Homo sapiens: one gene and its partner. The protein of the gene in region 1 interacts with the protein of each later gene in a pairwise test. Each region holds a gene or a part of one and is shown on either strand. Other genes may lie near its edges.

What was found. Proteins that work in one complex are often made in the same cells at the same time.
Region 2: the proteins of GPSM1 (region 1) and GLIS2 interact in binary tests that used the Homo sapiens proteins (3 or more experiments, as listed by UniProt).

What each region holds. Positions count from the first base shown.
Region 1 is NC_000009.12:136,351,504-136,355,435, forward strand, and holds part of GPSM1 (G-protein-signaling modulator 1), read left to right. Parts: intron 1-1,532; exon of another isoform or gene 1,533-1,652; intron 1,653-3,278; exon of another isoform or gene 3,279-3,519; intron 3,520-3,932. UniProt on the Homo sapiens protein: Guanine nucleotide dissociation inhibitor (GDI) which functions as a receptor-independent activator of heterotrimeric G-protein signaling.
Region 2 is NC_000016.10:4,314,414-4,318,013, reverse strand, and holds the start of GLIS2 (zinc finger protein GLIS2), read right to left. Parts: upstream 1,948-3,600; 5' UTR 1,760-1,947; intron 1-1,759. UniProt on the Homo sapiens protein: Can act either as a transcriptional repressor or as a transcriptional activator, depending on the cell context. Acts as a repressor of the Hedgehog signaling pathway. Represses the Hedgehog-dependent expression of Wnt4.

The DNA.
Region 1 (3,932 bases):
GTCAGCCGGCCTCAGGGGCTGATGGCTTTCTAGAAAGCACAGCCTCTGAGGGCTTCCAGGCTTCACGTCACCCCAACAAACTGCCCTGGGTCTGGGCCAGCAGGGCAAGGGGACACAGTTCCAAGTGTCCAGCTGCCTGGCCCAGCACTCTGGAGGCCTTGGCCAGGGCCCCAGGGAGCCCCCACCTGCTGCGGGCCCTGCTCCCCTGGCCCCTGCAACCACCGCGGGGCAGGACGCCTGGGACAGCCAAGATCCTGGCCCCAGACAAACGGGGTTCCCAGGGTCTGTGAGGACGTGGCAGGGCCTCTTGGCTTTCTGCTGACCTGAACCCCACTGGCCTTACCGAGGTCAGAACCTTGGGTACCTCCGAGTAAGGACCGTCTGCACCCTGGTGGCAGCCTGTATGGGGACTGCAGCGAGGGTGGGTGGGGGATACATCCCTGGGGCGTCAGTGGCCGGGTGGGCCCCCTTCCCCCTCTGCTGGGGTCCTCAGGGAAGGGCTTTCAGCTCTCAGTTGGGGTCCTCATCTGCAAAGTGCAGCTGATACCAATACTGCGCCGTTGCTGTTGGTGACACCAATACTGCGCCGTTGCTGTTGGTGACACCAATGCTGCGCCGTTGCTGTTGGTGACACCAATGCTGCGCCGTTGCTGTTGGTGACACCAATGCTGCGCCGTTGCTGTTGGTGACACCGATGCTGCGCCGTTGCTGTTGGTGACACCGATGCTGCGCCGTTGCTGTTGGTGACACCGATGCTGCGCCGTTGCTGTTGGTGACACCGATGCTGCGCCGTTGCTGTTGGTGACACCGATGCTGCGCCGTTGCTGTTGGTGACCAACCAGCCCCTGCCCCTCCCCACCCTGTGCCCAGACAGTGCAGGGGCCTTGCAGCCAGCACATTCGGGGCTTTGGGATCTGAGGCGGTGTGGCTGGGTGTGGTCTGGGGGTCCAGAGAACTCATTCTGGGGTGGAGGGTAGGGGACAGGGCAGGGTTGGCCTCAGAGGCTGGAGACAGTGTAGGTCCAACCAGGAATGAGACAGAGAGGCAGCAACCAGAGGCTTGAGTTGAGCTGGCCGGGAGGCCCTTGAGCCAGGGCACTGGGGAGCCACCGAGGGCTGTGGGACAGGAAGGGCCGTCCCGGACAGAGGAGTCCAGATGAGGACAGCAACCCGCCCAGGTCCTCTGCGCCTGCCTCCGTAGTCAGGCTGAATAAAGAGGTGGCTTTCCCCACCTGGCCCAGCTCTGGAGGGAGGCCCAGGGGCCCAGGTGTCAGCGGGAAAAGGGCTCTTCGGCAGGCTGTCTGCCCACACAGCCCTCCAGTGTGCCCGCCCACAGGCACGGGGAGGGGGAGGTTCACTGCTGCACTTGCTGGGGGAGTGTTTACGGAGTGCGCCTGTGTGTGAGTGCGAGCCCACGTGCGTGTGTGTGAGCCTGTGTGTGTGCACGCACTCAAGTGAGCAGGGGCGGGCGCTAGGAGGGCCGAGCCCTTGCCCAGGGTCCTATTTAAGCCTCAGGCATCCCAGCATTGAGGCAGCACTTGGCACTTTGGGCAGGGCGGTGGTGGCCCTGGGCACCTTGTGTCCTGCCTGCGCTCTGTGTGGCCAAGCACCCAGCGTGGCTCCCTGCTGCTGTGGAGACAGCCTGTGATCCGCGTGAGTCTGGGGTCCCTGGGGTCCTAACAGGTGGAGGCTGAGGGAGCACACGGGCCTCTGTGAAGCCGGGTGGGGTGGTCTTGGGCCGGGTGCATTCCCCTCCTCCGCAGGAGAAACTGGGCTTGTGCCAAAGCAAGAGAGACTAGAGTCAGACTGCAGGAGGGACTCTGAGGCCTCCGGGAAGGAGGGAGCCAGGGCTTGGGGCAAGGGAGAGGTTAGAGCAGGGAGGCGGAACCCCGAGTCCCACTGGATATGTTCTACTGGGACATAAATGCAGGGGAAGGTGGCCTTGGGGCCCAGGGTCCTGCTTCTGAGGGGCTCCAGGAGCCCCAAACTATCCAGAGCCTTTCCCCGTACCAGGCACTGAGCCACGGTTTTGCACCTGCAGTCGTGGGCCCCTGCCCCCATGTGAGGGAGGCATCAGCCCCTCAACAGCTGGCCCCAGCCTCAGGGAAGGGGAGGGCTGCCCGACATAGGACCCTGAGAGGGGCTCTGCCATGGGGCCTGGGACATGGCCCCTGACGGGTCCTGCCTTTCCCAGGAGGGACCTTGCTCAGTCCACCTGGGCCCCGGGTCACCTGGGGGAGTCCAGATTGGGCCAGAGGCAGAGGCCCCCCGCGGCTGTGCCCTAGGTCATCATAGCCCAGGAGCCAGTTCCTTTTAGACCAGGAGGCCACATCCTCCTGGGGAGGTACCTGTGTGGCCCCAACTGGCACTCAGGCTGGCAACCCCAGTGCCACCCTCTGCCTGGACCTGCAGCTCCCAGAGCCCTGGCCCAAGTGGATGTGGCCCTCCCCACAGACTGGGCCAATTCTCCCCTCCCTCCTGGCTGGGGAATCCGGGGGAGTGGGGGTGTTGCCTTAGGCCTGAGCCAGGCTGCAGGAGGAGAGCCCTGCGGGGAGAAGGGGGTGCTAGAACTCTCCCTCCTCAGGTCTGCCTCAGGGACAGGAGGTACCTCAGGCTTCCGTGACAGCTGGGGACTGACTCCAGGGGCCAGAGCCAGGTGGGGTCTCTCCTAAAACAGGGCTGTCCACAGGGCCCTCGGCTCAGCTCAAGGGTCTGAATCCCAGCTCTTTTTTGCTCCAGCATGACCTTGGGTAGGTCACACATGTCTCTAGGCCCCACTCTCCTGTGCCCTGGGCCGAGTCCAGCAGAAAACTGGAAGCAGGACGGGAGCCCTAGTCCTGGGCTGTGGGGGTCAGGTGTCGGGAATTCCAGTTGTCTGTCAGACAGCTGTCCGTCTCCTGGGCTGTGGGGGTCAGGTATTGGGAATTCCAGGCAGCATCGGGGACCCGGGAGGTGCCATCTCCACCAACATTGCGTCTCTTGTTAACTCGTTCAGCTGTGAGCCCAGCATTTGCAGACCTGGAAGAGGCCACCAGCCGTGAGATGGACAGGCTGGGGCCGGGCAGGGGCTGCCAGCGCCGGTCGGGAGGTGGACGGGGCTTGGAACCATCACAAACACCCTTCAGCCCTGGGGCCCGGACCAGGCCCTGTGAGGCTGGGTCACGGGGTGGACCTGCTTCAGCTGGGCCCCTTGGGGGGCCACAGGAGACCACGCCCTCCAGCCTCCCTTGTTTGGGTGTGTGGACTGAGGCCCAGGGCGGGGTTCATTCCTTCGAGTTCATTCACACAGCAGACACCGGTGAGGGCTGTGTAGGGCATGGACACAGGGAGCTCATGGCAGGGCTGACACAGGGTGTGGTGGGCACAGGGACAGGAGGCACGGGAGGCTTCCCGGGATGTCTGGGAAGTGTTCCAGGCCAAGGCTGGGGAGGCTGGCCCAGGGCAGGTGACGGACAGAGGCCTGGACTGGGGTAGCACCCATGAGAGGGGAGAAGTCCGGGGCAGTCGGCGGGTGCCGAGGGTGAGTGACACGTCCTGGGGGAGGGGTAGCCGGGTGCCGAGGGTGGATGACACATCCTGGGAGAGGGGTAGCCGGGTGCCGAGGGTGGTGACACGTCCTGGGGTAGGGGTAGCCGGGTGCTGAGGGTGGGTGACACGTCCTGGGGGAGGGGTAGCCGGGTGCCGAGGGTGGGTGACACGTCCTGGGGGAGGGGTAGCCGGGTGCCGAGGGTGGGTGACACGTCCTGGGGGAGGGGTAGCCGGGTGCCGAGGGTGGGTGACACGTCCTGGGGGAGGGGTAGCCGGGTGCCGAGGGTGGGTGACACGTCCTGGGGGAGGGGTAGCCGGGTGCCGAGGGTGGGTGACACGTCCTGGGGGAGGGGTAGCCGGGTGCCGAGGGTGGGTGACACGTCCTGGGGGAGGGGTAGCCGGGTG
Region 2 (3,600 bases), on another chromosome or scaffold:
GAACTCCCCAGGGGGCCTGGGCCAGGGTCACTCAGGGGCCGAAGAGCCCCAGCTGGAGGGATTTAACACCAAAGGTCAAAGGTCACAGACAGGGAAGGGCGGGCAGGCACAGGGGGTCAGCGCTAATGGCAGCTCCGGAAAGGAGGGGGAGGAGGAAAGGCTAAGAAAAACAGGGTTGCTTCCAAGGGGTCCGCACACCCCCCAAAACACCATCCCAAGTCCCTGGCACTGTCTCCTGCTTGGCTGGCTGCAGACAGGGCCAAGTTGAGCTGGAGGTGGGCAGTGAAATGGGCCAGGCTGGAGCTTGGCAAAGGGTGTCCTGGGAGGGGCCTCCCAGGTGCAGCCCCTCCCCCTGTGCAGGCCAGGCCAGCTAGGAGGCCCAGCCTGGGCTCTGGGGAGAAGGAGAAGCAGAGGGGGAGGTCCGAGGTCACCCGGGATGGGTGTGTGGGCTGGGCCTGGACAGCTGTGGCACTGTGGCACCAGAATGGGGCTTGGGGAGGGGTGACCCAAGGGGCCAGTTTCCCCTCCCCTGAGCCCGGGGGCTGGAAGGCCCTCCGAAGCGCAGTGTCTCTGGGCTTCCTCCCCAGCCGCAGGCTGGCCCCACCTTCCCTCCAGGATGCCAGGACACGCAGGATGGCGGCCTACTACCCAGGGTGCCAGCCTCCAAGAACCATGGCCCAGGCCCTTTCCATGGCCCAGACCAAGCCCAGGCCTTGGCCAGGTCCCCAGCCGGCCTGGCTGCCCCCTCAGTGTCAAGCGTTCCCTCCAGAGCCAAGATCCTGGGCTGTGATGGCTGGGGGCCCAGGGCCCCTCCCAGCATCCCTTCCAGCTTCCCAGGCCCCAGGGCAGGGCTGGGCAACTCCTTGAAACCATTGCTTCCCGGCCACCCTCTGGCCAGGCTGGGCGGGCCCTCCTGGACAGGCAGACAGGCTGCACGCTGCCCTGCTGTGGCCCGAGTACCCTGCTGGGCAGGGCAGCATGCCAAGGCCTCCAGGTGCCAGCCTGGATTCCAGCCCCATCCCAGGGGGCCAGCGGGGAAGCTGTGCGTGCTTCTCCTCCCTCGGGATGCACCTGCCTCGCCCCCTCCTCCACCCGCTCCAGACCCGCCCTCCGGCGAGTATGGACCCCTTGCCATCTCCTCCCTGCCAGGCCGGTCGCCTGCGTCCACCCGGACCGCAGGGGAGTAACAAGTGCCTGACTTGTCCCAAACTCCCAGTCCTGACCCCCCAGGGACGCCCCTTCCCGAGGTCCAAGGAAGGACCCGGGCTTGCGAGGGGCAGCAGGAGGGAGACTCTCCCGGCCAAGGGAGGAGGCACCTTCCAAAGCCCTTCCTAGCAGCAGCCCCGGCGCGGCCGAGAGGAGGGGCGGCTGCCCCGGACAACTTCATGCCCAGGCTCCGGGTACCCCCCTCTCACCTCGCCGCACGCCCCCCACCGCGGCCGCCCAACTTCCCAGCTGAAGTTTGCGCCCGCCCCGGGCCCGGGCGCTGCTCGGCCCGGCCTCCAGACGGAGGGAAGGAAGGAGGGAGAAGAAAGACCGAGAGCTCGAGGGACCCGGCCGGGGAGCCGGCGAGGGAGGGAGCGCGCGAGCCAGCGAGCGAGCGAACGCGGGGGCCTCGGCGAGGGCTCACAATGGCCCGGGGCGCGGACGCGAGCGGGGGAGGAGACCCTCGGGCCCCGCAGCCCCGGCGCGACAGGCGGGCCCCCCCCCCCCCGCCCCGGCCCGGTCCCCACGGCGCGACGCCCGGGGGGCTTCCTACCTCAGCGGCGGGGGCGGTCGGGATCCGGGCTGCGGGCTCCGGCGGTCGGGGGGCGCGGGGAGCCGAGCGGGGGAGGGGCCGGGACGGGCGGGGGCCGGGGCGCGAGGCCTCACGGGGCGCGGGCTCCCCTGGCACGGCCGCCCGGCGCCCGGCCGCTCCGCCACATCTGCAGCTCGGGCAGGGAAGGTGGCCGCGGCGGCCGGGCCGTGCGGGGATGTCTTAGAGGGAGGGCGGGCGGGCGGGAGGAGGGAGGAGGGAGGCGGCGGGAGGAGGGCCCGCCGGCCGCGGAGGAGGGCGAGGAGGAGGGGCGCGGGGGGCGGCCTCCACCCCTCCCCTCGCTCGCTCGCTCCCTCCCTCCCAGCAAAACCCCTCTCACCGCTGCGGCCCCAGGCCCGGGGCGCCAGCTGCCAGGCGGGGCGTGCGCGTCGGGGGAGGGGGCGGCGGGAGCCGGCGCTGGGCCGAGGGAGGGGGAAGGGAGGGCGGCGCGGCCGCGGGGAGCGGGCACCGGGAGGGAGGGGTGAGGGAGGGAAGTGGGGCGCCGAGCCGCGCGCGTCCTCCTCGGCCCCATCCTCACGCCACCCCCCCCCCGCGGCCCCGCCCCCGGCCCGAGGGCAGCGCTAGGACACGGCCGGGAGGTGGCCTGGGGGGGCGGGGGAGCCCGAGACGTCCCGCCCTCGGGGAAGCCCGAGGAGGGGGCCGGGCGCGCGGGCCCAGAGGAAAAGCCCCGCAGACCGGGAAGATGGAGGAGGTCGCGGCGGCGGAGCGGGCGGGGACCCCTCGCCTCCTCCCGCGGGGTCACCTTGGCCAGGCCCCCCTGCGGCCCCGGGCGGCGGGGAAGGCGGCAGGAATGCCTCTCTGCGGGCCCTGATTTCTCCGCCCAGCCCAGTTCCAGGAACGCGCAGGCAGCGCCCGGCGGGCAGAGGTCCCGGATCCCGATGCCGGGCGGCGCAAACCAGTTTTCGGGGCCCGGCGCAACCCCTCACGCTGGTGAGACGGCGGGCGACTCCCTGCCGTGCCCTCGGTCTCAGTTTCCCTCACGGTAGAATAACGACGAGGCCCGATGCCGAGCAATCCGAGCTTCCGCTTGGTTCCTAGCTTGGTCCCAGCATTTGGGACCACCTGCGTCCACTAGCCCGAGCGCCGCGGGAGGTCTAGATCCCTCCTGGACATCAGCACCCTGCGCGGCGCCCGCGGCCAGGGCAGCGAGTGCAGTGAGCGGATACACGCGAGGGAGAAGCCCCGCACCCGGCCCAGCTGTTTTCTGCCTCGTGTTGAACCACAGACTCGCGTTCTTGAGTGTGTTTTGTTTGGGCTAATCCCGTGCCCCCCGCCCTGTTATCTTCTTGCTGCTCTGCTGTATGCTGGCAAATTGTAGTTCAAAAAAACAGCCCTCCTGCTGTTGGACACCCCCTCTTCCCAGCGCAGTTGGCCTTGAGGAGCCTAGGAGACGAAAAAGGCATCCCAGAATCAGCATCCCCTAGAGGTGAGGCATCTGACGCTGGTTTTAAGTCCGTCTTCATTCGTGCATTTGATGCTGCGGTCCCCGCCAGAGCCCGAAGCACGTGGCTCTTGATCACAAGGCATCCATGGCAGGCACAAGGCTTGGCACATAGTAGGTGCTCCTGGGCTGGTGCCCAGATGGACACATAGCAGGTGCTCATGGGTTATGTGGACACACAATCGATGCTCATTGCATTTTAAGAGAATGCACACATAGTAGGTGCTCATGGGCTGGTGCCCAGATGGACACATAGCAGGTGCTCATGGGTTATGTGGACACACAATCGATGCTCATTGCATTTTAAGAGAATGCACACATAGTAGGTGCTCAGGACGTTGTG